Linked DNA regions of Homo sapiens. The protein of the gene in region 1 purifies or fractionates together with the protein of each later gene. This does not show direct contact. Each region holds a gene or a part of one and is shown in the gene's direction. Other genes may lie near its edges.

Evidence for each region.
Region 2: the proteins of CFH (region 1) and MYO1C purify together in Homo sapiens (affinity purification with mass spectrometry, with the first as the bait; one large-scale study listed by BioGRID). This does not show direct contact.
Region 3: the proteins of CFH (region 1) and LRP8 purify together in Homo sapiens (affinity purification with mass spectrometry, with the first as the bait; one large-scale study listed by BioGRID). This does not show direct contact.
Region 4: the proteins of CFH (region 1) and UCN3 purify together in Homo sapiens (affinity purification with mass spectrometry, with the first as the bait; one large-scale study listed by BioGRID). This does not show direct contact.
Region 5: the proteins of CFH (region 1) and FARSB purify together in Homo sapiens (affinity purification with mass spectrometry, with the first as the bait; one large-scale study listed by BioGRID). This does not show direct contact.
Region 6: the proteins of CFH (region 1) and MGA purify together in Homo sapiens (affinity purification with mass spectrometry, with the first as the bait; one large-scale study listed by BioGRID). This does not show direct contact.
Region 7: the proteins of CFH (region 1) and GNB4 purify together in Homo sapiens (affinity purification with mass spectrometry, with the first as the bait; one large-scale study listed by BioGRID). This does not show direct contact.

What each region holds. Positions count from the first base shown.
Region 1 is NC_000001.11:196,650,032-196,655,043, forward strand, and holds the start of CFH (complement factor H isoform a precursor), read left to right. Parts: upstream 1-2,011; 5' UTR 2,012-2,086; coding exon 2,087-2,144; intron 2,145-5,012. UniProt on the Homo sapiens protein: Glycoprotein that plays an essential role in maintaining a well-balanced immune response by modulating complement activation.
Region 2 is NC_000017.11:1,478,639-1,482,686, reverse strand, and holds part of MYO1C (unconventional myosin-Ic), read left to right. Parts: intron 1-128; coding exon 129-209; intron 210-1,801; coding exon 1,802-1,981; intron 1,982-2,061; coding exon 2,062-2,160; intron 2,161-2,981; coding exon 2,982-3,095; intron 3,096-3,184; coding exon 3,185-3,256; intron 3,257-3,951; coding exon 3,952-4,048.
Region 3 is NC_000001.11:53,261,820-53,266,140, reverse strand, and holds part of LRP8 (low-density lipoprotein receptor-related protein 8 isoform 1 precursor), read left to right. Parts: intron 1-127; exon of another isoform or gene 128-389; intron 390-1,744; coding exon 1,745-1,972; intron 1,973-3,576; coding exon 3,577-3,695; intron 3,696-3,933; coding exon 3,934-4,073; intron 4,074-4,321. UniProt on the Homo sapiens protein: Cell surface receptor for Reelin (RELN) and apolipoprotein E (apoE)-containing ligands. LRP8 participates in transmitting the extracellular Reelin signal to intracellular signaling processes, by binding to DAB1 on its cytoplasmic tail.
Region 4 is NC_000010.11:5,367,645-5,371,965, forward strand, and holds part of UCN3 (urocortin-3 preproprotein), read left to right. Parts: intron 1-4,321. UniProt on the Homo sapiens protein: Suppresses food intake, delays gastric emptying and decreases heat-induced edema. Might represent an endogenous ligand for maintaining homeostasis after stress.
Region 5 is NC_000002.12:222,642,063-222,646,383, reverse strand, and holds part of FARSB (phenylalanine--tRNA ligase beta subunit), read left to right. Parts: intron 1-37; exon of another isoform or gene 38-762; intron 763-1,462; exon of another isoform or gene 1,463-1,499; intron 1,500-3,378; coding exon 3,379-3,533; intron 3,534-4,321.
Region 6 is NC_000015.10:41,750,533-41,754,853, forward strand, and holds part of MGA (MAX gene-associated protein), read left to right. Parts: coding exon 1-83; coding exon of another isoform or gene 84-86; intron 87-3,904; coding exon 3,905-4,035; intron 4,036-4,321. UniProt on the Homo sapiens protein: Functions as a dual-specificity transcription factor, regulating the expression of both MAX-network and T-box family target genes. Functions as a repressor or an activator.
Region 7 is NC_000003.12:179,399,193-179,403,513, reverse strand, and holds part of GNB4 (guanine nucleotide-binding protein subunit beta-4), read left to right. Parts: intron 1-2,194; coding exon 2,195-2,301; 3' UTR 2,302-4,321. UniProt on the Homo sapiens protein: Guanine nucleotide-binding proteins (G proteins) are involved as a modulator or transducer in various transmembrane signaling systems.

The sequences.
Region 1 (5,012 bases):
CCGCCATGCCCCGCTGTCGTACCCCCATATAAATCCCAAACTCCAAGCTCCAGAAGAGACCTACAAGTGAGGAGACGGAGAGGCAAGCCGACAAACAGGCCTGCGATGGCAGAATGACACAGCAGAGAAAGAGAGGAGGGACATCTGGACTCCGAGGGGAGTTTGGCCAGGGACGGGTGGAGAAGAGTCTGGCCACTGGGAGGCCTGACACTGGGCGAAGGTCACCTTCCCACTCCATCTTGCTGACAGCCACCTCCACCACTCAATAAAAAGTTGCCCTCATCCCTCGAGCCCCCGTGTGATCCGATTCTTTTGGGACACTGGGCAACAGCTGGGGATATAGAGGGCTATTTCACTGTCCCACTACCCATGAGATAAGGAAGAGGGTTTGTTGAGCTGATTAACACATAAACCATTTGCAGATGGCAAAGCTAAAGGAGCACACTGTAACATACGCCCACTTGGGCTTCGGAAATCGCAGACACCCACCCCTAGATGCTGCTGTGAGGCCAGAGCCCGAAAGCGCTCACTCCGGTTCCCGCACCGGTGCATCTGTGTGCTCCCCCTCCCCGTAAGGGGTTTGAGCTGCAGGGCGACCTAACTGGCAAGCCGCACACCTGTTGCATGTCCTTCAAGGGGAATCAGGGATCTCTCACATTTCAATTAGTCATCAGGAAAATTCATATTATAACCACGGAGAATTATTGCTTTGTGTTACCAGAAAAGCTAAAATTACAAGGATTAAAATTACCAAGTATCTCTGAGGGTATGGAGCAACTTGGACACTGCTGATAGAAATGTCAAGTGATGTCAAGTGTTATAATCCATTTGGAAAATTGTCTAATTTTATCCATTACACCTAAACATAAATTATGTCCCAGTGTTTCACTACCAAGTATGCACTTACCAGAAATGTGGATTGTGTTTACCAAAAACCTCATAATATAAGGCCCATAGCAGCACTATTCATACCAGCTCCAAACTAAAATCTGCTCAAATGCTCACTAACAGGCACACAGATAAATAAAATGTGAACTATTCAAAAAGTGGAGTATTAAATCGCAATAAGAATGAACTATCTGTAACTACATCTAACAATGTGTTTGAATGGTCCAAACACAATTTTTGGTGAAAAACTCTAAACATAAGAATAAACTGCTTCTTTTTCATTATACAAAGTACAAAAGCCAGACAAATATATTCCATGTTCTTGAAGATCAGAATCGTGGTCTCTGTGTGTGGGGGGTGTGGGAGAGGGTTGAGAGGCGTATTGACTGAAAAGGAGTACTGGGGTTTTCTGGGATGTAATAATGTTCAGTGTTTTGACCTTGGTGGTGGTTTCACAGGTATCTTTACCTTCTCAATATCCAGCATATGATTTATGTTTTCCTTATACATATTACACTACAATACAAAGTTTTAAAAATCAGCATTTCAATTTGTTGATTTTTGGATTATTAAACCTATTTACGTCAAATGAGAGTGAGCCAGTTGCTTCATACACATATACAAAAAGTATTTAGAAAACTAATTTCATAAATTGCTAGAAAAGCAGACCCCCAAATTCATCAAGCACTGCATTCTTGGCAAAGTTTGTACACATTGTCTGGGTGCTGATTGTGAAAACATTGCCTAAACCAAAGTTTTGTATGTGATTTCTTTTAAAGTTTCTCTTATTTCCTGTTCTGAGGTTTATACACAATAGACCCGAATAGAGTTTGAATAATTGAAGGGTTTATGAAATCCAGAGGATATCACCAGCTGCTGATTTGCACATACCAAGAACATGAACATTTTCCAACGGAGAATTTCCCTAGCTTAATAAGAAAAAGTCCAAGAGCCGGTCACAGCATTAACATTTAGTGGGAGTGCAGTGAGAATTGGGTTTAACTTCTGGCATTTCTGGGCTTGTGGCTTGTGGTTGATTTTTTATTTACTTTGCAAAAGTTTCTGATAGGCGGAGCATCTAGTTTCAACTTCCTTTTGCAGCAAGTTCTTTCCTGCACTAATCACAATTCTTGGAAGAGGAGAACTGGACGTTGTGAACAGAGTTAGCTGGTAAATGTCCTCTTAAAAGATCCAAAAAATGAGACTTCTAGCAAAGATTATTTGCCTTATGTTATGGGCTATTTGTGTAGCAGAAGGTAAGATTAAAAGAGACTCTTTTCTGAAAACTGTATTATGAAACATTTGCTAATGATGCTTTTCACAGGAGTAATAAAAATTTGATTTAGAAAATGTGCTTAAGTATTCTGTAACTTGACAATTGAGTGGCTTTTGACATTGTTGAGTTTAAAAAATGTAAGAACCTTATTTGAATGGTATATCTAAATATTCATCATAATTATATTTAATATAAAATAGAATAAAATGTTTTAATAAACATTTCTGAAAAACTATGATCTGGAATAATCATTTCCCTTGTAATTATCATAAAATGTAATTTACTTTTTTGCTTAGGAGTATAACCAAAATGTATTATGTGAAAGCATTAAGAAGGATGTGAATATACATAGTCAATAAAAGCCATCAAATCATAATGATTAGATTTATTTCAAATATGATTTTAACTCTTCCTAAATAAAAATTCATTTATCATTTACAACTGATATTGTCATGACCTTAGAATTCTTGTAGACAAGTATTACTTGTATTATCAGAATAAAAATATTATATAAATTTGAAACCCAATTGAATATACAATATTTGTAACAGTTAAGTTGTTCAATAGAGATTTTTTTCCTGTAGTTGTATATAACATATATTCTTGAAGAGCAGTCTTTTGGAGTAGTGAATATGAATGTAGGAGTTTTTTTCTGACCTCAGTAAGACAATTTCTGGATTCATAATAAAATTTAATTATATCACTGCTTCTTGATAGATTAAAAAGCTTATTCTTGGAGGAGGTTTGCTTTCCTAGTTTTTGATAGGTAACCAGTTATGTGATAGATATTTGGTAAACATTTTTAAACTGAATGAATTACATATTATTCATAATTTCTAAAATCTTTTCACTTAGTAAAGAAATTTTGATTGAGTGACCATTACATAGCCTCTAGGAACTGAAGAATATTAGCAAATAATACAAATCTCTGTTTCAGTCTTCCAATCTAGAAAATAAAAGCAGATATATTCTTATAGTTATACACTTTGGTAATTTAAAAAATATTCAAATATGTTTAATACCTTTTGAAAGGTTGAATTATTTTCAGTTATATTTTCTAATGTTATTGCTTGTTCTTTGGCTTGTAAACTTTATATGTAGCCACTTTTTAAATGAAGAAAACAATTATTTCCTTGTACATATAAATATTATAATTAGTATTTTAAAATGAAACCTTTTTGTATTTACAAACAGTTCCAGAACAATGTCAATATTACCTATTGTAAAAGACATCTTTTTCTGTTTCTTTGTGTAAATATTTCTGTCTTTTCTTACTAAATTTATGGGAATGTTTCTAACGTTTCATACCTACATACTGTTTGCTCCAGTTTTACATAGATACCATTTGTCATATAAGGGAGATTTGTTTTATTTCTAATCTTTAAAATCAAGAATCAATGGCAAGTTTAATAAACAGTTTAAGTTATTAAAAAGTTGAATTTGAAATATTATTAAAATAGAGTACATCAAAGTATATGTGATAATTAAACAATAGTGATTTAAACATCTTATTTACATAATTGATTATTGCTGACTTGTTTCACTTTTATTTTATTTTTCATCAATGTGTGTTTAAATGTGGTATCAGTTTCTACTGGTGAATTGAACATCGGCACTATATATGTTATGGTGAAAATGATATAAATCTGATTATTTCCTAAAAGATAAAGCACAACTTTGTATTTAAAGCAATGCTTAGGCCAGCCTCATAATTTTCATAAAAGCACATGTAATGCAAAAGCCAATGGAGAAAAACTACATGAATTTTCAGTGGATATCAGACTCCTAATTTATTCCTTGTTTCCCAAATACTCTCTGAAACTAAACTAGTTCGAGATGTCCATCAGTTCTATTAATCTACCATATCTAAAAAATTTTTACTTAACAGAGTAGCTTTGATCATGAAAAATACTCACATATATTTCAATATTTGCTTCTGTTTATATTTTCCACATTGAATACTGAATACCAAATTGAGAAGATAGTTTGAATACTATCACAATCTGCTTTATTCAACAGCATAACATTTTAGCATTACTTCTGCTCTGTTAAGAGTGAACTTTCTTCAAAAAAAACACTATTCATTACTAAGAAAGAATTATAGCCAGCAGGAATAATTTGTAATTTCAGCTTTCTATTTGTTTTCTTTTTTTAATATATTGGGTACTACATAGAACCTTTCTAATGCAATATATTGTCTACAATAACATTTCCAATTGTGTAGGAACGTTAATTGCCTCCTTGTTTTAACAGTCTGGCTCAGGGGGTCACTGCAGGCTACTAAGAATTGGGTCAGATTTACAGGACAAAGTTTAAAATAACAGTTTCTCAATCGTACCACCTAATTTCACCTTTTTGAAATATAGTATGACCAAGGTTTTGAATATATTATGACCAAGCAGATTTTTTAGATTTAGGGTCTAACAATTGTGTACTATATGAAATTAGGCCACAGCCCAGAAATTCCAAGATGATTAAAGTGAATAAATTAAAACTCTACTGAAACATGTTCAAGTAAATACTGGCTGTGTTGTTTGGGAGACATGTTTTTTAATCCTGGAGATTTAGAGTGCAGAAACGTTATTTCAGGTCCCAGAAGACTTTATAGATCAGAGATTGATGGATTCCATTACAGTCAGAGAAAGGAGAATAGTGGTCTAAAATCCTAAATTGTATGTTTGAATTTCAGTGTGATAAATAAGAATTCCCCTTTGCTCCCCCAAACCCCCATATTTTCAGAGATAGTAGTATGTGTATTTATCTATATGGTGTGATTTAAATTGTGCGATGGCCCAATTGGCTTCAATATCTCATCTCCTCCTAAAATACTTTACGTGTTGATATTAAT
Region 2 (4,048 bases), on another chromosome or scaffold:
GGGAGGGGAGGGGAGGGGCAGGGAGAGAAGCCCAGTGCGGGAGGGGAGGGGCAGCAGTAGCTACAAGGCGGGGTGGGGAGGGCAGGGGGAGAGTGCCAGGTGTCCCTCATACCCCTGTCCACTCCTAGGCCTTTGGAAATGCCAAGACCCTCCGGAACGATAACTCCAGCAGGTTCGGGAAGTACATGGATGTGCAGTTTGACTTCAAGGTACCATGGATGTGTGTGTCGTGAGGATTCCCATTCAGTAGGCTCTACACGTGTGAAGCACCTACTGGGTACCAGGGACTATTCCAGGTGCTGCAATTCCAGCAGTCAAACAAAGCAAACAAAAATCCTGCCTTCCAGGGTGATAAACAATAAACAGGGAAATTGAGGCCGTGGCAGAAAATAAAATGCAGTAAGGAGTGGGGGGCAGGTGCGGTCGTATTAGGGTAGGCCTCACTGAGAAAGTGGCATTTTAATAAAGGCTTGACAGCTGGGTAGGGTGGCACATGTCTGTTGTCCCAGCTCCTCTGGAGGCTGAGGCAGGAGGATCACTTGAGGCCAGGAGTCCAAGGTTACCCTAAGCTATGATCATGCCACTGTACTCCAGCTTGGGCTACGGAGTGAGACCCTGTCTCTAAAAAAAATAGAAAATAATGGCTTGATGGAGATAGGAGCAGGCTGTGCAGGTGCCTGTCCAGGCAGCGGGAACGGAACAGCCAGGACAAAGGCCTGAGATACGAGGGTGCTGGAAGTGTTCCAGGACAGCACGGAGGCCACAGCGGCCAGAGAAGAGAGCAGGGGCCCGCGAACAGAGAGAGGCCAAACGGTGCAGGCCCTTTTGGGTTGTTGCAAGAACTTTTTTTTTTTTTTTTTAACTCTGAGTAGAAGGGGAGTCATCGGGCTGGGTGAGGTGGCTCATGCCTGTAATCTGAGCACTTTGGGAGGTTGGGGCAGGTGGATCACGTGAGGTCGGGAGTTCAAGACCAGCCTGGCCAACATGGTGAAACCCTGCCTCTACTGAAAATACAAAAATTAGCCAGGCACGGTGGTGTGTGCCTGTTGTCCCAGCTACTCAGGAGGCTGAGGCAGGAGAATTGCTTGAACCCGGGAGTTCGAGGGTGCAGTGAACTGTGATTGCACTACTGCACTCCAGCCTGGGTGAAAGCAAGACCCTGTCTCCAAAAATAAAAAATAAAAAAATGACTTTAGCTGCTTCACTGGGAGATTGGGAGTAGACGAATAGATGGGAGGGGAACCAGGCTAAGCAGGGAAAACGGTTAGGGGGCTGATGTCATCATGTAGGTGACAGGTGACATTGGCTCAGACCAGTGTGGTGCAGTGGAAGTGGCGAGCAGTGATTGGATTCTGGATGTTTTAAAGGTTAAGGCAGCAGGATGAGCTGCCTGATTGGATGTAGGGTTTGGAGAAACACAGGCTTCCAGGAGGACTGCCAAGTCCTTGGCTTGAACAACGAGAAGGATGTAGTCACCACTGACCAAGGAGGGCAGACACTAACAGGAGCTTGTTTGAAGAGGGAGAAGGTCCGGTGTTGAGCTTCAGGCCTGTTGAATTTGCGATACCTGTCAGGCATCCAGGTGGAGCAGCCAGGTCGTTGGAGTTGAATCTCCCCATTTCCTAGATGAAGTAACTGAGTCCAGCGTGGGTGGCGTGCCTGAGCCGACGCAGCTAGTGGCAGGGCTGGAATTGGCATCCAGGTCTGGCTGCCAAAGCCCAGGAGTGCAGGGGAGAAGAGGGGCAGGTGGGCTCTTTTCCCAGTCCCCGTGACCCGGCCTCATGCCCTGCCCTGCCCACAGGGTGCCCCCGTGGGTGGCCACATCCTCAGTTACCTCCTGGAAAAGTCACGAGTGGTGCACCAGAATCATGGGGAGCGGAACTTCCACATCTTCTACCAGCTGCTGGAGGGGGGCGAGGAGGAGACTCTTCGCAGGCTGGGCTTGGAACGGAACCCCCAGAGCTACCTGTACCTGGTGAAGGTGAGTGGCTGGCAGGGAGGGCAGGTGCCACCCAGGGATCTGGTGCCAGGGCTGGCAACCCAGCTGTGCCCTTCCTCCAGGGCCAGTGTGCCAAAGTCTCCTCCATCAACGACAAGAGTGACTGGAAGGTCGTCAGGAAGGCTCTGACAGTCATTGATTTCACCGAGGATGAAGTGGAGGTGAGGCCTCTTCCGGGACCCTCGCTTTCCTCCTGTCACACCCCCAAAATCTCCTTTTTTTTTTGTTTTTTATTTTTTGAGACGGAGTTTCATTCTTGTTGCCCAGGCTGGAGTGCAGTGGTGCAATCTCAGCTCACTGCAACCTCCGCCTCCTGGGTTCAAGCAATTCTCCTGCCTCAGCCTCCCGAGTAGCTGGGATTACAGGCGCCCGCCACCACGCCCAGCTAATTTTTTGTAGTTTTAGTAGAGACGGAGTTTCACCATGTTGGCCAGCCTGGTCTCGAACTCCCGACCTCAGGTGATCCGCCTGCCTCAGCCTCTCAAAGTGCTGGGATTACAGGCGTGGGCCAGTAATCCCTTTTTTTTTTTTTTTTTTTTTTTTGAGATGGAGTCTCGCTCTTTCGCCCAGGCTGGAGTGCAGTGGTGCGATCTCAGTTCACTGCAACCTCTGCCTCCAGGTTAAAGTGATTCTCATGCCTCAGCCTCCTGAGTAGTTGGGATTACAGACACCTGCCACCACACCTGGCTAATTTTTGTATTTTTAATAATGATGGGGTTTTGCCATGTTGGCTGGGCTGGTCTCGAACTCCTGACCTCAGATGATCCTCCCGCCTCAGCCTCCCAAAGTGCTGGGATTACAGGCGTCAGCCACCGTGCCCATCCCACCCGCAGAATCACCTTCCACCTTTAACACCCATTCCCACTTCCAGCCCCTTCTCTCCGACACTTCACCACCCACCCCTGCATGGCCATCTGCTAGTTGCCCTCTTGGGGCTCTCTGGCCCCTCTCACCCCCTCCTGCCCCCGGCCTGCTCCCCCAGGACCTGCTGAGCATCGTGGCCAGCGTCCTTCATTTGGGCAACATCCACTTTGCTGCCAACGAGGAGAGCAATGCCCAGGTCACCACCGAGAACCAGCTCAAGTATCTGACCAGGGTGAGTGGGGCGGGCAGAGGGCGACGGGAGGACGGCGGGGGCGGGGGCTGGGGGTGCACCCTCACCGTGTCCTCGCCTGCCCTTGGCAGCTCCTCAGCGTGGAAGGCTCGACGCTGCGAGAAGCCCTGACACACAGGAAGATCATCGCCAAGGGGGAGGAGGTGAGGCCGGGCCCTTGCCCTCGGGTGTGGAGGGGCAGCTGTTCCAAGGCAGCCCCTACTCCCATCACTCCCCTTCGCCTGGTTCCCTCAGCAATGCTGGAGGGATGGAAGGAAGGCTGCTCAGAGAAGCAGAGTGAGAGCCGAGCGCCGTGGCTCACGCCTGTAACCCCAGCACTTGGGGAGGCTGAGGTGGGCAGGTCACCTGAGGTCAGGAGTTCGAGACCATCTTGGCCAACATGGTGAAACCCCATCTACTAAGAATACAAAAATTAGCCGGGCATGGTGGCGGGCGCCTGTAATCCCAGCTACTCGGGAGGCTGAGGCAGGAGAATCGCTTGAACCCGGGAGGTGGAGGTTGCAGTGAGCCGAGATCACGGCAACAGAGCTAGACTCTGTCTCAAAAAAAAGAAGCAGCACAGTGAGCTGGCCAGGGTCACATAGGAAGAGAGTAACAGTCCGGCTAGAACCAGACTCCCACCTCGGGAAGGAGGCCTCCTGTCCCTCTACCACCTTCCCTCTGGGGTGGCCACCTGTCCTCCCTGAGGTCCCACTACCAGCACCCCTCCCCATACTGCAGGCTTGCTGGAGCTGGGAGTGCAGAGTGGTGGCGGCTTCCTGGTCTGCCTGAGCCTGGGAGCAGGTGGGATGCACAGGCTCTGTGGCATTCATCTCCTTGTCTCACGCTGCGTCCACAGCTCCTGAGCCCGCTGAACCTGGAGCAGGCCGCGTACGCACGAGACGCCCTCGCCAAGGCTGTGTACAGCCGCACTTTTACCTGGCTCGTCGGGAAGA
Region 3 (4,321 bases), about 140 Mb from region 1:
CTCACATCCCTGTGTGTTGGAACCTGGGGACTTAGACCTGGTCCCTGCCCAGAGGATCCCACTCACAACACAGTGACATCCATTTGTGATGATCATGAGAAAGTACAGAGGAGGCCTCCGAACCCACCTGGGCATCTGATCTGGCATGCCTTCCTGGATGGCATCACCCCAAGGCCAGCTTTTCACTGTCTTTGACGCCACAGTCAGTGGACCTGGTGCTTGGGAAGCTCTTCACACACTGGAGGAGGTTCTCTCCTAGGACTTTCTCAGATGCCAGCACCTGCCCCACTGCATGTCTGGGCCCTCTTCAGGCAGTCATGTCCTTTCTTTGTCCTGAGATCCACTTGGCAGGAATGCCGATGACCAGGCGCTGGGTAGACACTGAGTCACTGATGAAAGAATGATGGGACAGATGGGTGGAAGAGTGGATGGAAGCAAATATAGCAAGTGCTACTCACTGACAACTAGATTCCTGCCTCCCTGCAACATACAGACACTCCGTTCACACACACCCAAAAACATAACTAGAACAATGCCTGTCCAAGAGATGTAACTGAAAGAGGCAGGATTTGGTGACAGACTAGATATGGGGCTGATGGAAGAAATTTACTCCTTCATAGTGAATTTTGGGAGTTTCAGGTTTTTGGCTTGGGAGGTTTCATGAATGGTGGTGCTGTTCTCTGATGTGTGAAGCAGTAGAGGAGGATCAGGGCTCAGGGTTTGGGCCGTCTGGTTGGCCGAGGGGAAGGGAATGGGGATGAACAGTTTTGGACATATTGAGTTCAAGGTGTCCATGGGACATCCAAGGGGAGCTAGTTAGCTTTGCAGTCTGGATCGTAAGAGAGCTGTTGGGATTGGAGACTTAGTTATTGATGGCAGTGGACACTAAGGAACTAATCACCCAGAGAGAGGGCAAGAAGAAGAAAACCTCTGGGGAAACAGCATTTGCTATTTTGCTAATGTTGCCTCCTGAGTGTCTACTGTATTCTTAGCCCTTCTTTCCATTCTCACTGGCACGGTCATTCTTCAGACTCTCTTAATCTCCCACCCAGATGCTGTAACGTCCTCCTAACCAGTTTCCCTGCTTCATTCCCTCTCCTTCCAACCCATCCACTCCATAGATGCCACAGTGAACTAACATGCTTATTGGACTATATCCTCTGGCCTGTCTAGTTATCACTGGGGAGAAATCCTAATTCCTTGGCGTGGTACTCAAAGCCCATCAAGATGGGGTTCCTGCCTACACCTGCTTGCAGTCTGACACCCACATAAGCAGCTCCCCTAAGTATCTCACTGTTCCAGAGCAGACTCACCTCTGGCCATTTGCACAAGCCTTTCTTGTTCCCTAATGGCTTTCTGTCCTGGTGACTTCATGCTCCTGGTGAACTCGTCCTTCAGGACTCAACTATAAAGCCTTCTCCCGCCCTCTCGGATGAGGCAGTCTCCATGCCTCTGCTGCCATAGCCTCTAATGCTTTCCATAATCACATTGTATTATATCTGGCTCACCCTAATGGGCAGAGCTGTGGAGCAGCCCCACCTTAGAAAGCCAGAGACCGTGGCCCATGTAAGTCTGTACCCCTACCCTGGTACCCCAGGGAATGTGTAGAGTGGAAATTATCCACGTTCCTCTAAAAATCTATTGCCATGGCCCAGATGGAAGAGAGGGGAAGGGTGCACAGGTAGCTCCAGATGGGCCCATGGGTGGAACATCTGCCCCATGGTCATCTCTGTTTTCTCTTAAGCGCCTACATGGACAAGGCCAGTGACCCGAAAGAGCAGGAGGTCCTCATTGACGAGCAGTTGCACTCTCCAGAGGGCCTGGCAGTGGACTGGGTCCACAAGCACATCTACTGGACTGACTCGGGCAATAAGACCATCTCAGTGGCCACAGTTGATGGTGGCCGCCGACGCACTCTCTTCAGCCGTAACCTCAGTGAACCCCGGGCCATCGCTGTTGACCCCCTGCGAGGGTGAGTGTCCCAACTGAACTTCCCATTCTCCCACCATAGGTGCTCAGTCCTCTTGTGTCTGTCACAAGGGCTATCTTGAGGGTTCTAGAAAGCTCTGGGCCACTCAGACACAGGCCATGGGGAAGAAAGTCTTGTTAATCCCCAACCAAGGTTCTCTGGGCATTGGTCACCAAAGTTCTCCCTGGACTCTCCCACCCACTCGTTATATCGTAGAATTGGAGTGTCTCAGAGCAGAGTAGGGCTCTAGAGATGGCCTGATAGAAGCTCCTGGGGGAGGAAGCCTTTCTTCAGGCTGCTGTAGGTGAGCATCTGACAGCTGCTCACATACTTCCAAAGACAGGTAGCTCATTACCTCCCATAGGGCCTGTTTCACCGTGGGGCAGCTCTGCTCATTAGAAAGTGGGTCTTTTCCCCTCATAATGCCAAATCTATCTCCCTGCAACTTCCTCCATTGGCCTCTGGAGTTACATAAAACATGTCTATTCCCTGCCCTGTGAGAGAGCCAGCAAGATTTGAGGACCAAGATCACTGGTCTGTTCTGCTTCAGACTGCCTGCCTCCATCCCTACCCCTGTTGCCTATGGTCTCTGGGCCCTCACCACCTAGGTTGCCCTGCTCTGGCCACCCCTCAGTTTTGGGAGTTAGGGATTCTGAACAGAACAGGACTCCCTCTCTCCCTCAGTGTGGATATCTTGAGATGGTTTTTTTAGCGTTATATCATGTTAAGTTTAACAGAATCAACAGCTGCTTCCTACTGCTATTTCCTTGTTAAACAGGGATAAGAAAACCCTCTTCTTCGAGCAAGGGCAGCTGGTGAGGGGAGTACCACATGGGAGGTTATGTGAGGCCTTGGGAAGTGACTGATAGCTGCCATTCACTAAGCATGGGTCAGGTGCTTCCAGCACAGAACTAGGCACTCTGACAGATACGGAGCCTCTCCTCTTACCCTCACTTCATCCCTGTTCTCTGTCTGTTCTCATGCAGACCTTGTGTTGCACCTGCCACATCCTGTCCCTCACATCATAGAGTTACACCCAGCCCAACCCCAATCCACTGCGGATCGTCAGGGTCCCAGGAGGAAACCCACTGCATACTCAAGATAATCAGAGGAGGGTTTAATAAAGGGACTATTTACAAAGGAGTGGGTTAGGTCTAATTTACTACCTTGGATTAGTAACAGTGGGCTGCTACTGGCCCTAGTAGGCCTGAGGAGACAAAAGCAGGGAGGGTTACCTGAGTTAGGAAGCTCATCCACTTTCTCCTCTGAAACCAGAAAAGAGAGGGCTTACTAGGGCCTTCCCCACACTGACACCCTAGGGCTCTAGTTAGTTAGCACTGCCAGAAGTGGGAGAGATGGGGTCACAGGCTATTCAGCTGAGTCTGGGTGCAATCTCGGAGAATAGTTTTCCTCAAGTTCTCAAATGAGGTGAAGGCTAAAGTGCCTGCTAAATCTAAGATTTGATGGTTCAAAAGAACTTTAGAGGTCTTCTCAGTCCCTACTAAACATAAACCACAACTAGTCAATGGGTTATTGAGCTCTTGTGACTCAGACCACCCCGGTCATGTCCCCAGCAAGAAGGCAAATTGGGTTATTTTGTCTTTTAGGTTCATGTATTGGTCTGACTGGGGGGACCAGGCCAAGATTGAGAAATCTGGGCTCAACGGTGTGGACCGGCAAACACTGGTGTCAGACAATATTGAATGGCCCAACGGAATCACCCTGGGTGAGCCCTGCCTTTCCTGGGTTGGGGGCCTATTCTAGTGCCTTGTCCTGATCACTGTCTGGAACTCCATGAGTCTTGTTTCTGGGTCCTCTCATGGTGCCAGTGACTTTGTTTCCTAATGGTTGCCGTAGGCTGGCCTCAGTGTGAGGCCTAGAAATGTGGGCAGGGAGAGGTACAAAGGAACAGAGCTCCAGACTGGGGTCCCAGGTTCATGACCTGATCCTGCTTCCTTCCCAAGATCTGCTGAGCCAGCGCTTGTACTGGGTAGACTCCAAGCTACACCAACTGTCCAGCATTGACTTCAGTGGAGGCAACAGAAAGACGCTGATCTCCTCCACTGACTTCCTGAGCCACCCTTTTGGGATAGCTGTGTTTGAGGTGAGTCCTGTAAGGAGAGGCAAGGGCCCACTAGGAAGCTGAAGCCTAGAAAATGCTTGTTCAAATAGGATGAGTCCCTGAGACTTGTTCAAATGAAAACAGGAACAGGGAAACCAACTGATTTGTTTGTAAACAATCTGTGAGCTGCCTGCACACAAAGGCTCTGCAGCCCACTCTCCACCTGGCAGCCTTTCCCACGCTCTCTTCCCAAGACCCCTCTCCCAGAGCACTTCTCACAGGTGAGCTGC
Region 4 (4,321 bases), on another chromosome or scaffold:
AGTGTCTTTAAGGGGTGGAGATAGACAGGTAAACTCAAGTGTTGATTTACACTAAAGGGCCAGTCCGTGTGAGCAGAGCCCCAAGATGGGCTTGAACTCAGAAAGTAGTCTGAGTTCTCAGTAATATTTGCAATTATTCTGCAAAGTTCTAAGTGCTTGAGGGTAAATGCAGAATGCTGCCCCGGGAAGGAAATAGAAAGGAGCAGGGAGGGGTTCCCTGGGCTGGGGTGCAGGGTTTGAGTGAGGAAGCAAAATAAACAAATGGGGTGGTGGGGCAGTGGGGAGAGAGCCATGTGGAACCCACAGAGGGAGGCCTGAGGGTAGCTCCAGGGTTGCATCTCAGCACCCTCTAATTTTTTTAATTTATTTATTTTTTTGAGACAGAGTCTCACTCTTTCACCCAGGATGGAGTGCAGTAGCATGATCTTGGCTCACTGCAACCTCCACCTCCCAGGCTCAAGCAATTCTCCTGCCTCAGCCTTCTGGGTAGCTGGGATTACAGGCGTGTGCCACCACGCCTGGCTAATTTTTGTATTTTTAGTAGAGACAGGGTTTCACTATGTTGGCCAGGCTGGTCTCAAACTCCTGACCTCAGGTGATCCACCTGCCTCGGCCCCCCAAAGTGCTGGGATTACAGGTGTGAGCCACCCAGTCCGGCCAGCACCCTCTATTTTAGCTTACACCCACCCAGAGTCCAGGCGCCTTTCATTTGGTGAAAATCAAGAACTCATTTCATTCTCCCAGTGCTTTTCGTAGAGGGACCTCTGGCTTTCAGAAGTAGAAAAAGAAAGAAATCAGAACAAAGATTCTCGAACTCAATCCCCTGCTCTCACAGAGGAAAATAGTGAGGTCCTGGGCGGTTAGGCATGAGCTAGTGAGTGGGAGGGACAGGACTGAGTCTGGTAGTGAAAGGAAAAAAGGGATGAAGGAAGAAAGGGACAGAGAGACAAAGTTTCTCCACCACTTTCCCCCCAGTATTAACCTTTCCAAATTGGTTTTTGTTTTTTTAAACCCTTTCAGGGTTAGCAAGCCATTCGAAATAATTTCCAAGCTTTAAGATGCCTTCAAGGTATAAGGCAGCTAAAACCATGCTTCATACTCTATTTATGAAAAACAACTCATTAGGTCCTCTGTAAATGAGAAAGCTGAAGGTCTGCCTATTGAATGCAACATTTAAGGAAAGAAAAGCCCATTTTCCACAGGGACGGTTAGTGCACCCCTGGAACTCCGGGGTACAGCTCTAAGGAGTCCAGAGTCGGGTCAGAGCACGCAGAGCAGCGGTTCTCAGAGTGTGGCCCTCAGACCTCAGCATCAGCATCACGTGGGACTGTGCTAGAAATGCATGTTCTCAGGAGCATCCAGACCCAGTGACTCAGAAACTCTTGGGACGGGGCCCCGCAGGCTGTGTTTGAACCGCGCCTTCACATGAGTCCAAAGCACCTGAAAGTTGAGAACCGCTTACTTAGACTAAGGGCAAAAGGAGTCTGCACAGGTCAGGGTGGAGAGGGTAGCATGGAGCCAAAAGCTACAAGCCAGAGATACGATACAACAAGGACATTGCTCTGCAGGATCAAATGCTTGCTCAGATTTCCTGGTCTCTCTGTACATATGTGTATTGTGTATACACAACTGTGTGTGTAAAATGCACTTCTGAAAAGGTTGTGTGCAGACCAGATCTTCTCCTAAGAAGACCTGGAGATTATTCAGGTGTGGGTCAGCCTTGATTGAGCATCTGCTCAGACAAGGAGCTTTCATACACACATTGACGTTTCTCATCGAATCCTTCACTTAACCTTCATGAGGTGGTTATTGCCATCCCATTTATCAGAGAAGGAAATTGAAATTCACAGAGGTTATCGGCCCAAACCCTCAGGCAAATAAGGAAATAAGGACGAAGAAGGAATTCGAGCCTGTGTCTAACTCCAAAGCCTGTGTTGTTCTCACTTCGCCAGGCAACATGCCCAGATCTGGCTAGTTCATAGGTTTGGACTATTTAAAGCGAGGATCATGTGTTTTCTCATAAATTATGAAAAATATTAGTGCATAAAATAAGCTCTCAAAATTTTTGTAATGCAAAATAAATGGAACAAACAAAGCAAAACCTGATTTCTTAGACAAAAAAATTAAAGGAAAGAAAGGCAACAGCTGCAATGTGGAGAACCAAGGGAAGGAACAGGCTTTGACAGGAAATGTGCTGGGTAAACATTTATCCACGTGGGTGTGTGTGTATATGTGTGTGTATATGTGTGTGTGTATATGTGTGTGTGTATATGTGTGTGTATGTGTGTGTGTGTATGTGTGTGTATATGTGTGTGTATATGCGTGTGTATATGCGTGTGTATATGTGTGTATGTGTGTGTGTATGTGTGTGTATATGTGTGTGTATATGCGTGTGTATATGCGTGTGTATGTGTGTGTATATGTGTGTATATGCGTGTGTATATGCGTGTGTATATGCGTGTGTATATGTGTGTGTATGTGTGTGTATGTGTGTGTATGCGTGTGTATATGTGTGTGTATATGTGTGTGTATATGCGTGTGTATATGCGTGTGTATATGCGTGTGTATGTGTGTGTATGTGCGTGTGTGTATGCGTGTGTGTATGCGTGTGTATATGCGTGTGTATATGCGTGTGTATATGCGTGTGTGTATGCGTGTGTATATGCGTGTATGTGTGTGTATATGCGTGTGTATATGCGTGTGTATATGTGTGTGTATATGCGTGTGTATATGCGTGTATATGCGTGTGTATATGTGTGTGTATATGTGTGTGTGTATATGCGTGTGTATATGCGTGTGTATGTGTGTGTGTATATGTGTGTATATGCGTGTGTATATGTGTGTATGTGTGTGTATATGCGTGTGTATATGTGTGTGTATGTGTGTGTGTATATGCGTGTATATGTGTGTATATGTGTGTGTATATGCGTGTATATGTGTGTATATGTGTGTGTGTATGCGTGTGTATATGCGTGTATATGCGTGTGTATGTGTGTGTATATGTGTGTGTATGTGTGTGTATGTGTGTGTATGTGTGTGTGTATGTGTGTATATGTGTGTGTATATGATGTGTGTGTATATGCGTGTGTATATGTGTGTGTATATGATGTGTGTGTATATGCGTGTGTATATGCGTGTGTGTGTGTATGCGTGTGTATATGTGTGTGTGCGTGTGTGTGCGCGCGTGTGTGTGCGCGTGTGTGTGCGCGTGTGTGTGCGTGTGTATGTGTGTGTATATGCGTGTGTATATGCGTGTGTATATGCGTGTGTATATGCGTGTGTATATGTGTGTTCATGTGTATGTGTGTAAGGTGTGTGTGTGTGTATGTATGTACATGTGAGGTATGTATGTGTGTGCATATGTGTGCATATATATACGTGTGTGCATGTGTCTATATGTATGTGTGTGTATGTATGTACGTGTGAGGTGTGTATGTGTGTGCATGTGTATGGTTGTGTGTATGCATGTACATGTGAGGTATGTATGTGTGTGCATATGTGTGCATGTATATGTGTGTGCATGTGTATGTATGTGCATATGTGTACGTGTGAGGTGTGTATGTGTGCATATGTGTGCATGTATAAATATGCATGTCTATATGTATGTGTGAGGTGTGTGTGCGTGTATGTGCATGTATATATGTGTGTGCATGTGTCTATATGTATGTGTATGTACGTGTAAGGTGTGTATATGCACATGTGTGCATGTATATATGTGTGTATCTGTATGTGGGTGCATGTGTATGTGTATGTGTACCTGTTTGTATGTGTGCTTGTCTATGTTCCTGTGCGTCCTGTGTGTGTGTCTGTTTCCAGGGTAAGTGAAGCAGCGGGGACTTACAGGATCCTCCTTTAGAAAGAGACCCAGGCTCCCTTTGCTAAGGGTCAGCGCTGGTTCTGTCCATCGCTCACAGCCTAAGGCTGTCTGGTTGGGCTTGGGTTGGGTCCACTGCACTCATGTGTGGGAAATGGCCTCGTCAAGGCCACACTGATGAGGAGCTGCAGAGCAGAGACTGGAGCTTGAGCACCGACTGCCAGCCCTGCCTGGCCCTGCTCTGCACTGTCACCGCAAGGAACAAAATGACCCAATGCCAGCCTCACGCTGCTGAAGGCCCAGGCGAATCACCAGGTGATTTACTTACCCAATTGTTCTTATTTATTTTGAAAAACTAACGTAAGAAAAGGATTCTCCCAAGTTGATAGTGAACCACATGTTTCTTGCTTGCTTTTGTGAAAGCCAAGTATGTCTTCGGTAATAAAGTGAACTTCGAGTTCAGGAAAAGCCCTCAAATGTAAATAGCAGAGCCTTTCACTGCTTCTA
Region 5 (4,321 bases), on another chromosome or scaffold:
AAAACTGTGCGATATGGAAATACAACACAAAACTTACCTCATAACCCAAGAAGATTTTATCTGCTCCCAGCTGTTCTGGGTTCTAAGGGATAAAATTGTGGCAGGCAGTACCGGGAAGTAGAAGTTAAAGACATGCCTGAATGGATTCTTGGTGTCTGTAGTGACTCTCCTCCCACAAGGAGGAAGAGTCAACCAATTTTAGTACAGGATGGATTATGGAGAATTTGGTAATCTAGTCGGAATAATTATATTGTATTGGGCCATAAGGAAATTATTCTGCTGCCAAAAGTAACACCTAGTAAGATTGGCATTTTTTTAGACTGTGAAATGAATGAGGTTTCCTTTTATAATTTGAATGATAGATCTCTTCTCTGTACTTTTAATGATGATTTTACAGGAGAACTTTGGCCTTATTTTTATACTGGAACTGACTCAAAACCTCTTAAAATTTCTACAGTAACAGATTCTGTATTTTCTTTCACCTAGTAGACATAACTGAGCCAGTTAATCTAGTTTTGGCCATTCTGTATTTTGTCCAGTTTTTCTCATAAAAAAACAATATTTTTTATCTCAATTTCAGCAACTTCCAAAAAATGTGATTATGGGACCTACTTTATAATAAATTATGGGGTCAATGACAAAGTACTTTAGAAATTCTATGGTAAAATACTTGAAAAATATATTACTGAAGGAACGTATTATGTAAGAAAATCTATTACTTTTGTAATTGCCAATAAAAGCCCAATTTTTTTCTCAAAAAAAAAAAAAGACATACTTTAATTTAAAAGATAATTTTCTGATAGTTAGTATTATTTTTTTCCTAAGCCTTCTATCTTCACCTATTCAGTGCTTTTATAACACTACCTTAGGTGTAAAGTTAAAAAATGTTCAGGCTAAAAAATTGTACATTATCTTACCTTATTTTTCCTGCTGCCTTACTAATGTTACAGAAAGATCATCTTTGTACTAATCTATTTGTATACTTGAGAAATTGGCTGAGATTTCTGTAGTTTATAAGTTGCTATTCGTAATTTTACTACACCTCAGAATTATGTTTGAAATTATGTGATATCTAAGAGTGTTGGACTGGATGTTAGATTATTTGAGTTCTAGTTCTAACATTTACTAGCTGTGTAACTATGGACAATTACTTTGCCTGTCTGAACTCTATAGTCCAGACGAGTCTCTCTGGGCCTCCTTTTCATTTGTGAAATAAGGGGTTTGGATTATATGATCTTTATGGTTTTCTTTTTTGACTCTGAAATTTATGTGATTTTAAATTTCTGTAAGATTATTGTCAGGTAGCACTGACAAATTCAGTCTTTACATATGGTCATTGTATGAGCTGAGATGCTGAAACTGAAAGAAGATGTAAGCTTCTGTGTCTTTTTTTTTTTTTGCAAAGGAATTAGATCTTTTTTTACAGTAGTTCCTCCTTATCCACAGTTTTTTGCCTCCACAGTTTTGGTTACCTGCAGCAAACTGTGGTTTGAAAATAGGTGAGTATAGTACAATAAGAAATTCTGAGACAGAAAGAGACTACATTCACATTACTCTTATTATAGTATATTATTTTAATTGTTCTATTTTATTATTAGTTGTTAATCTCTTACTGTGCCTAATTTATAAATTAAACTTTTTCATAGGTATGTATGTATAGGAAGAAACATGGTATATGTAACATTTAGTCCTATCCAATGTTTCAGGCATCCACTGGGGAGCTTGAAACATATCCCCTGTGGATAAGGGGGTGCTGCTGAAAAATGAATGCAGATGCCTTCATTTCTCCGGTTATTATATTATCTTCTCTGTATATAGGTCCCTCCTGAGATCTGCCATCTCCTGGGAGGTGACTCAGCTTTCTTCACTATTGAAACAGTAATTTTATTAACCCCTTTGATTGAACATTGTTTAAACTCGAATTCTTCCTCTTCTCTTTTTGCCTCTCCCCATTCCCCTTCTTTTCTTTTCCCCCTTTTTACTCCTTCCTCCTCCTCTTCATTCTCTTGTTTTTCATTTTTCATTTTCCCTAATTATAAAAATTTGCCTCCTAAGTTTGAGATGCCCAAGGTAGAGGTTTTTTGGAGCCCAGCACCACCTTGTACAGCCCCAGCATTGCATAGACTCCTGTGGTTCCTCAGGTGGGACTTTGGCACATAATACTCGTGGCCAGAAGTGAATTTCTCTGCATATTGTGCAAATGTGGATATAATTCTTAATTTGGACAAAAATTTGAACTACTTATATTGTGGCAGTGGGAGGGCATCATGTAAAACAAAAATCATTACATATTTTGATAGAAATCCATCAGTTATTTTAGCAGGTTGTTGGTGGTGGAAATAGTAGGAATTCTGGTTAAGTGGAGTTTCCACATAATTAAAGCGTAACATTAACAGTTGGAATACAACTTGTAATCATTTCAAGTGAAAATTTCTTAAATATATTTACAGTTCCCTGCTGTAGTAAACATAAGGAATAGAGTGTAACTTCTCTGCAGTGGTTATGTTTAAGAAAATCTGTTACTCTGCTGTAGTGTGGTGCTTGAGATATTCTAAACTCTTTGCCACTGCATTAAACGTGATTCTAGTGGTGTTTCTTCTGTCATCTCCCTCTTGGCTGCCTTCATTCTGCTGCACTATCCCTTTGCTATCACTAGTTTGCTTCCCATTGTACCTATTATCCCTTCTAATTTTTACCAGTGTCTGATGGTCTCTGACTGTTTTTAGTTTTTATACTACCCCTCTCATTCTCATGTGGACTTGGGTGCCCACAGGATTTAGGTTTTAGAGTCATCCTATAAGAAGTTGTGTTTCTTTTATTTAGTGAATCATCTTTCTTTTACCCCTTTGACACTTTTGTTGTTGTTACTTTATGTTCTTGGTGATGTTTTAATTTTCTTTTAGCTTGAGATGGGAAAACTTTTTCTGTAAAGGGCCAGATAGTAAATATTTAGGCTTTTTGGCTCTATAGTCTCTGTTACAACTCAGCTATTGCAGTGTGTAAGTAGCAGTAGATAATATGTAAATGAATGGGTCTGTCTGTGTTCCAATAAATCTTTATTTACAAAAACAAGTATCAGGTATGATTTGGCCAGGGGGCTATTGCTTGCTGACCCTTGTTTAGATGGATTTGTGCTTTTCTGGGGTGATTGAGGTTGCCAGATATCTGAACTCAGTTAAAGCTGAAGTATTTTTCTGTCTGCTATGATTATAACACTTAATATTTTCATGTTGTTTTTGTCGTGGATATAATAATCCCATGTTCTTGTTATAGAAAATATGTATAATGTAGTTACTGCCTTATAGGGCTGACAACTTTTACTTTTTAAAGAGAGTTTAAATTATTTAATTTTTATCATTACTTTTTGGCTTGTTTTAGACATCTGAGAAGGAAATAATAAGTAAAGAACAAGGTAATGTAAAGGCAGCAGGAGCCTCTGATGTTGTTCTTTACAAAATTGACGTCCCTGCCAATAGATATGATCTCCTGTGTCTGGAAGGATTGGTTCGAGGACTTCAGGTCTTCAAAGAAAGGTAAGGAAATATGTTCCTTAAAGACTTTGCTAAGTTGGGTTTTCTTTTCTTTCCTTGTCATTATCAGCAGCCATGTTTAAATTTCTAGGAAAAAGCTTGTAGAGGAACGTAGCTTTAGCTCTCAATAGAGGGTTGATTTGAGGAATTAGATTCATGCAGATTGTAGCCATTTGAAAATTTCCATGAAAATTTTAGTCATAGCCATTCATCTTTGAGAACATATTTTAAAACTGGTGTTTAATGCTTTTATGGCGTCTTAAAAAATTATTTAGCAGGTGTGTGTGATTCCCCTCCGTGATCTAATTGGAATGAGTAGTTCACTGGATGTGTTAAAAGTTGAGAGGAAATGGAGAGCTAGCAATAAATACCCTTACATTATGAGTTCTAAGGAAGCTCAGGAGTGAAGCCTCCTAACTGGAAAAACCAAAGATCTTATGACGGCTCTGTGATCTTGAGCAAGTTAGTTGGCCTCTCTAGTTTCAATTTCCTAATCTATAATGAAGAAGATTTATAAGGCCCCTTCCAGCTTTTCATTTAATGAAGATAGAGGGGCTGGACATGGTGGCTCATGCCCATAATCCCAGCACTTCGGGAGGCCGAGGCTGGTGGATCACTTGAGGTCAGGAGTTCAAGACCAGCCTGGCCAACATGGTGAAACCCCGTCTCTACTAAAAATATGAAAATTAGCCAGGCATAGTGGCGTGCACCTGTAATCCCAGCTACTCAGGAGGCTGAGGCACAGAATCGTTTGAACCTGGGAGGTGGAGGTTGCAGTGAGTCGAGATTTG
Region 6 (4,321 bases), on another chromosome or scaffold:
ATGAGAAAACTGATGATTCTATTGATGAAATTGTGGATGTTGTTTCTGACTACCAGAGTGAGGAGGTTGATGATGTAGAAAAGGTGGTGAGCCCATTTTTGTTGTGACTGAAACCTAAAGGATTTAAATGATTTATTAAAGACAGAAGCTTTTTCAGAAGAGCACTAAGGCATAATACATTTAATTGGATGCCTAGGTTTAAGATTATGACTTAAATGGCTTAGTAGTTCTTTAGGCTGTGTCAATCAAGCATCATTTATTGAGCTTTTATTCTTTGAGACTTGTCTGGTTTTATGGGAAGGCTGGCTTAAATATTTGGGGGATAGGTGCTTGAGAGTCCCTACCGAGTTAGATTTTTAAAATCCCGAAACCACTACTCCCATTTGACCTCAGTCAATTTCTATGACGTTTTCTATGTGAGGTGGTTGTAGCTTCTCTGGTAGATGTTAATCAGAAACTGGGAATGGGTGACCTTAGAACTAGAGGAGAACTTATTCACTTGCATATAGAGAGATGTTTTTGTTTTTGGAGAAAAACTGGAAAATACCATCATATTCTAGTACCATTTTGCCTTGAGTTGCTTTTATATCCAAAAATTAAATATTTAGTCTCTGGAATTTATATTCTAGACTTTGGTCTTCGTCCTTTGTAATATGACCTTTATGGCCTATTTTTATTATTTTCCTGAAGTTTTTTTTATAGGATTCCTATTTAGGGTTGTTGTATTTACTTAAATAAGTAACTGTCAGGTATTGATACAGTGCAGGAGTTGTACAAACGTTTTCTGTAAAAGGCCAGATAGTAAATAGTTTTAGACTTTGCAGAGAGCTAGATGGCTCTCTGTTGCGACTAATTGACTGCTGTTGTAGTATAAAAGCAGCTGTATTCCATTAAAACTTTAGTAAAAAAGTCCAGGTGCGGTGGCTCACACCCATAATCCCAGCACTTTGGGAGGCCGAGGTGGGTGGATCACCTGACGTCAGGAGTTTGAGACTAGTCTGGCCAACATGACAAAACCCCGTGTCTACTAAAAATACAAAAAATTAGCCAGGTGTGGTGATGGGTGCCTGTAATCCCAGTACTCAGAACGCTGAGGCAGGAGAATCGCTTGAACCCGGGAGGCTGAGGTTGCAGTGAGCCCAGATCGCGCCATTGCACTCCAGCCTGGGCGACAAGAACAAAACTCTGTCTCGGGTTAAAAAAAAAAAAGAAGTTGTTAGTGGGCTGTGGTTTGCTGACCCCTGACATAAGGTCTGATGTAAAACATGGGGAGATCATAACCAGCTGCCTGTGGAGTGCCCTAAAATCTAAACTGTGTCCTTCTTTTCAGGAGCAGATGACAGCCGTCTGCACTGATTGTCATACAACTGCTTGTTTTACAATCTCACTTCCTTGAGATTCATTCTGCCTCTGTGTTATCTGGTCCTTTTCTGTTATTGCTTAACTGCTTTATGCACATAAAATAAGACAAAAAGATTACTGTTTTAAAAATCTAAAATGTTGAAATATTTTATTTTAGCGATGGAGTCTTACTCTGTCGCCCAGGCTGGAGTGCAGTGGTGCGAACTCAGCTCACTGCAACCTCCACCTCTGGGGCTCAAGCAATTCTCCTGCTTCAGCCTCCTGAGTAGCTGAGATTACAGGAGCCTGCCACCGCCCCAGCTAATTTTTGTATTTACGTAGAGATGGGGTTTCACCATCTTGGCCAGGCTGGTCTTAATGTTCTTATATTGGTTATTTGAGTACCTCCATTGTCTCATTTATAAAGGAGGATCTTGCTCTAAAATTGGATGATTCTGTATTCATTTGACTTATACCTTCTCTCCATAGCCTAATCTTTTTCAAGAATGGATGTAAATTCATTGACTTTAGGAGTTATATTGCTGATTTTTTTGTGTTTTTTGCAGTCTCACACTGTAAGTCAGCCCAAGTTAACATGAGACCAAAAAACAGTTCAACTTTAAAACCAGTGAAAACTATTACTATTAGTGGAACTTACATAATAGAACCTTTAAAGTTTTTTTTTTTTTTTTTTTTTTTTTAACAGAGTCTCGCTTTGTCGCCCAGGCTGGAGTGCAGTGGTGCCATCTCGGCTCACTGCATCCTCTGCCTTCTCGGTTCAAGCGATTCTTCTGCCTCAGCCTCCCGAGTAGCTTGGGATTACAGGTGGGCACCACCATGCCCAGCTAATTTTTGTATTTTTTTAGTAAAGACAGGGTTTCACCATATTGGCCAGGCTGGTCTTGAACTCCTGACCTCAGGTGATCCACCCACGTTGGCCTCCCAAAAGTGCTGGGATTACAGGCATGAGCAACTGCCTCCGGCCTGAAGTATCTTAATCATACAAGGAGGCATTGCTTGAATGTACTAATAGGGAATTTGACAAGCAAACAAGTTATACTGACTTTTTTTTTAAAGGTCATATTAAGTGATCTCTAAAATCTAAAGTCTACACTGTTTTTATTTGCACATCTCACACCTACGTTACCTTTATGATTAGCATTGGAATACTGTGAGGGAAGTTGTAAATAGCTTCTTTAATTTAAATCTTCCTTGTGGAAGTTATTGGAATATTATTTAGAAATACTGCAGTTATGCCAGGCGCTGTAGCTCTCGCCTGTAATTCCAACACTTTGGGAGGCTGAGGCAGGCGGATCACCTGAGGTCAGGAGTTTGAGACCAGCCTGGCCAACATGGTGAAACCCCATCTCTACTAACAATACACAAATTAGCCAGGTGTGGTGGCACAGTCCTAGAGTCCCAACTACTCGGGAGGCTGAAGCAGGAGAATCGTTTGAATCCCGGGAGGTGGGCTCATTTACTATGTTTCTGGCATAGTAAACACTTTTTTTTTTTTTTTGAGGGGGCACAGAAATGTTGCAAGCAAATACTATTTGTAAAGGTGGACTTAAAAAGATCTGCTTATCCTATATATCCACATAACTCTAGTGTTACATAAAATATTTAGCAAGTTTCTGTGACAGGTGCTCAGTAAACACTTTGACTCCTTTTTTGGTATAATAAGGAAATACAGCAATCGTGGGCTTTTTTGAAACCTGAAATTCCTTACAAGCTCTCATTTTGTGGTTTTGAGAGAGTTGCAGGACTAGGCTGTATCCTATTTCTATACCTGCCTGTGTATGCTAATGTGTGTTGATTTGTGGGCATCTGATAGGATGTTGGTCATGAAGCCCCCTTAAAGTGGCACTTGAATTTTTCTCCTTTCTATATTTCTTTCACCAAATTTTATTTTACTGTTATTTAATCTTAAGATTTATGAAACCTTAATATATCTGTGCCTGAATTTTGTCCACTAGAAATAACACTGAAGCATCAGTGCAGTCCTTTGAGGATGCTGTTAAGTTTAATTATGTCTGTTTATTTATTTTTTATTTAATTTGTTTTGAGACAGTCTTACTCTTGTCTCCCAGGCTGGTGTGCAGTGGTGCAGTCTTGGGTCACTGCAGCCTCGAACTCCTGGCCTCAAGCAATCCTCCCACCTCAGGTTTCCGAGTAGCTGTAATTATAGGCGAGCACCACCATGTCTGGCTAATTTTTGTATTTTTTGTAGAGACAGGGTTTTGCCATGTTGCCCAGGCTGGTTTTGCACTCCTGAGCTCAAAACGATCCACCTGCCTGGGCCTCCCAAAGTGCTGGATTATAGGTGTGAGCCACCACGGCTCACATATATATATGACTTATAGTTCTTGATTGTTAATTCTAATGATATGTTATCTTTCTGTCTTAATTCCTTATTATGACTAACAATCTTAGGATTATCAGTACTCATGATATAACATGAATGTCTGGCATTAGTTGGTTTTATAAGGGGAACAAACATTTGAAAAGTTTAGGTGTGCTTGCCACTCAATACATTATTTACTTTTATAATGATGTATTTCAGAATAACTGTGTAGAATACATTGAGGATGATGAGGAGCACGTGGACATTGAGACTGTAGAAGAGCTCTCAGAGGAAATTAATGTTGCTCACCTGAAGACCACAGCGGCCCACACACAGTCATTCAAACAGCCGTAAGTCTTATTTCTCTTTGGATTGTTGTTTTTGTAGTTTTGTAACCAGAAACAAAATGAGATGTTCTGTTCAGGAGCTCTGGGTAACTCATCTGGTTCCTTCTTCCTCTAGCTTTTTTTCTGATTAGTATAGATGAGGAGAGGAACTAGAATTTGGGTAATTAATTTTCTTTGGTCGTTGGTAGGAGGCAGTGTGTAAATGTGAATAACATGCTTTTGGAGCCCGATAGACTGGTATTATAAAATATTAGTTTTGCTAGTTTGTAGGTATTTAACCTTGGGCAAA
Region 7 (4,321 bases), on another chromosome or scaffold:
GCCTGACTTTTTAATTATATTTTTTATTTTCCATCTTTTTTGCTTTATCTTCTGGGAGGAAACCTCACCTCAGGTTTCCACCCTTCTGTTAAGTTTTGGTTTTCATTTTCGCTACCATCTTTTTAACTTAAGAGCTATTATTAGTGAAAGAATTTTTTTTTTAAGTTTCTTCTTCAAGCATCATCTTTTGTGTTTCCAAGTTTTTTTTTTCTTCATTTTTGGGGTTTCCTGTCTTTATTTTTAGAATATTTCCTTAAAAGTGTTAATTCTTATTCATACTTAAGAGCGAGGCACTAAAACCATTTGAAGCTCTGGGCACGTGGCTGGTGTGCTGACTCGGCCTCCATTTACTCTAGGCTGGCCGTTCACTGAGGAAGCTTTGCTGTGTCTGCCTTTCTGCCTTTCTTCCTTTTTCCATCTTCCACTTTCCTCCATGAAGTGTATAAACTGGCTGCCAGTTTGAGGGCTGATTTCAAGAGAAAACCTGAGGGACCACAACATTTAGCTAGTAAACTTTATTCCCCATTTCAGCACAGTTTTATCAATCGCATCTGTGCCTGTTTTCTTCCAGTCAGGAGACCCTGTTTTACCCTTTCCTCTGAGTGAGTCTCTGGCCTTACGCCACAGCGCAGGATGATCTGTCACCTGACTGCAGAGTGGAGGAAGGGGACACCTGGGGGCTCTTACTGATTGATGAACACTTTCCAGCACAATCTTATTTTACTCTGCCTTTGCCCCTACCTGTTCCAGAGATACCTGGTTCTACCTAGTAGGGACACTTTTGGAGAATCTGCAGTGTAATTTTGTTACTTGGCTTACTATTCATTTTGAACTCAGTATTTTGGGGTTCATTAACACAGTTGCCACCATCCAGCTTACGAAAGTTCGTTGCCATTGCCTGCTCTCATCTCACTGTCCTTGTGGATTTATGTCCTTACCCTTTTAACCCCCGCTATGCAGTTGTTGGGGTTCCTGAGGGAGCAGAGGCAGTGTAAGTTTTTTCCAGGAATAATTTTCTACAACCTCTTTCAAGAGACTGCATGGTTTGCAGTTTTACACTTTGCAAGTAGATTCCTGGAAGTATTCCGTTGCTTAAGGCCAATTACCTTTTAAAGATATTTGGTGTTTTGCCTGGATTGAAACAATTAGTATCCATAACAAAATAAAAATGTGCTTGTTGTCCACACTTATATGCTTGAGGTTTAGTTTTGCTTTGCCTACAAGCTGGTTTCAGGTTGGCTCAACTGGAACTTTGAACTTAAAATTGGATCCTGACTTGTGAATTGCTAATTCATTTCCCTCTCCAGTGTGACTTAAAGTATTTAGCCACAATGTTCATTTTTTTTGTTATTTCAACTCATAATGGTAAATTTTCCCATTGCCAAACATGGCCATACTGGAGATACTATAGAGAATATTAAGAGTTACAAGATGAACTTCTGTTCCTGATTGATCGAAAATGATATGCTTAAGAATAGAGAGAGAGAATGCAAATTCAAACACTGTATTTAAAAATTTTGAGCATTTGATGTATTCTAATTTTTCTTATTAATCTTACTGTATTTCTTGTTTTCTTCCAAAATACTGGAAATACATCAAATGAGTTTAATGTGTGAAAGAAATGAAAACTAGATGAGTTTCATGGTTTCAGAAAGTTATAACCAATAACATTCCAGAGTTTGGTGATTAGCATAAGAAAGTAAATGAATTATGTTGGTATTCTTGGAAGCAGTGATGTGAGGCAGCTTTGTTCTTACGTTTTTGTCGTTCCTGTGGTGAAGGGCTCCTTCAGTGAACTTCATTGAAAATCTTGTTTTTGTTGAGAATAGCATACATAGCTCAGTAGCAAAATTTGGAATATCGAGAACTTATTAGAGATGTGGAATAATTGTCTGCATATGTTTTCCTAGATATAAGTTGAATTATAAGATGATTTTTCAAAAATTAAAACCACAAATTGATGCATGTCAAAATTCAAATAATCCAAATTTATAAATACATCCAGCTTACTCCTAACTTGTCTTCTTACTCAGAGAAATTTGTTGTTTTCTTTTAAATTATTATTATTTTTTAACTGATGAACTTTCAAGAAAACTGGACTGATAGTTTATAAGCACCCTTTTAAATCTCTGCATATACTTGTTTAATTCTAAAACCCTACAATTGCCAATTTTTTACTGAATTTTTTTTTCAGGTGTCCTTGCTGGTCATGACAACCGTGTGAGCTGCTTAGGTGTAACTGATGATGGCATGGCTGTGGCAACAGGCTCTTGGGACAGTTTTCTTAGAATCTGGAATTAACAGTGTCATACATATTTGTTCTCCATTGATATATCTGGAGAAATCAATGCTACAGCCTATAGCTGTGAAAAAATTCTACCTTATATTTGCAGGTGAAGATTTTTCTATTAGATTATCTACAAAAACAAGCTTTCAGTAAACTACCAAAAAAAAAGTGGGGGTGGAGGAAAAAAGGCAAAGGCGCCTTCTGAGATCAAAAGGACCAGTGTATTAATTTGAGGGGTTGGGTTATTTTAACCTTGGTGAATTGTTGTGTGTACTCAGAGTGTATTTTCTTTGTGTAGAACAGAATGTACACATTATAGCAGCTCGCCATTGTGTTTGCATTTTTTAAGAAGTACATTTTTAACTTTGTATACACAAGAAATGTCATATTTTTGAGTTTTGTAATGGAAGAACCAGGCACAGAAACAGACAGAAATGATACTGTATGTGTGTGTATTTATGTCTGAAGAAAGTCCCCTTGAATTCTGATATCTCTTTGAATCTAAGAGATCCTGATAGCTTCATGTTTAAGAGCATTGACAGGTGGGGCACCTCTGAGGGGAGTTCATTGTTTCTCATGCATCATTTGCCATATACTATTAATCAAAGTGCTTGCTTTCAGTCCTTTGAGGGGACAGATAATCTGAAGGCCAGAGATTAGAGATTTCACTGATATTTTGGACATACATAAGAAACATCATTATAATTAATAAAAAGTAGGTAATAGCATATAAATGGTTCTTGACATTTTAAAAGCCTGGTTATGATCAGTTGACACTTTGAGTACCCCCCTAAATAGCTGGACTTTCCTTTTCATTTCATATTTGGAACTAAGTTTGTAGCGTATACTCATCTTTCAGAAGTTTGGTAAACATTGGGATTGTCCCTGCATCTGAACATCTTTCCCAGTGCTATCAGTATACATCTAGAGAGGAAATGCAATGTGACAGTGTTACATTTGGAGAGAAGTGTGAAATCTAACCAATCGCTAGCACATATTTGTTGTAATACGGTGGTTTATTTCATGTTTGCATACTATAAAATCTGAATTGATGTGAAATATCTGTGCCTTTAAATTTCTTAAACCTTTAAGCTTTTTGTTCTGTTTTGCAACATTTTGTAGTATTTCTTCCCTTCCTTAGCACAAAATACTGGTTTCTAAGTGGTTTTGCTTCAAAGGATGTCTAGATGTAAGTGATTCCACTTAAAGCCAAAATAAAAATTCCTAAAGCAGTTCTTAAAGGAGTTAGAGAGCTATATTAAACAGTTTTTCTGTGGTATAATAATGTGTCTCTTACTAGAAGTCCCCCACGACCAAGTTAAAGATACTTTTCCTGTTGGATTCTCTTTTACAAATAAGTCTAAATGACTGATAATAGAAGATTGTTAGTCTTGCTTGATGGTAAAGTCTTGGATTATTCTGATATATAGACGTGCATTGTTTTGTAACTTAGTTACTTTTCAGATAGGTCTGTGTTAACTTTTGAACATGTGTAACTTAACCTAAATACTCCCAAACTTTACCTCTAAATTTTTGTTTTTATGTTGTGAATGTGCTAATATGTGCATCAACTGTAAAGATGTATCAGTTTTATTAAAATCAGTTGACAATTAGAATAATAAAGTGGATAAAGGCAAATTAAGATATAGGACCAAAACAGAATATTGTAGATGGCAGTTATGAATGTATATTTATATTTTGATTAAGATTTCTATTAACTTTTTGGCTGGGCAGAGTGGCTTACACCTATAATCCCAGCAATTTGGGAGGCCAAGGTGGGCAGATCACTTGAGGTCAGGAGTTCGCGACCAGCCTACCCAACATGGTGAAACCCCATCTCTTCTAAAAATACAAACATTAGCCGGGCGTGGTGGCACATTCCTGTAATCCCAGCTACTCGGGAGGCTGAGGCAGGAGATTCGCCTGAACCCGGGAGGCAGAGGTTGCAGTGAGCCGAGATTGTGCCACTGCACTCCAGCCTAGGCGACAGAGTGAGACTCCATCTCAAATTGGAAAAAAAAAAAATTATATGAA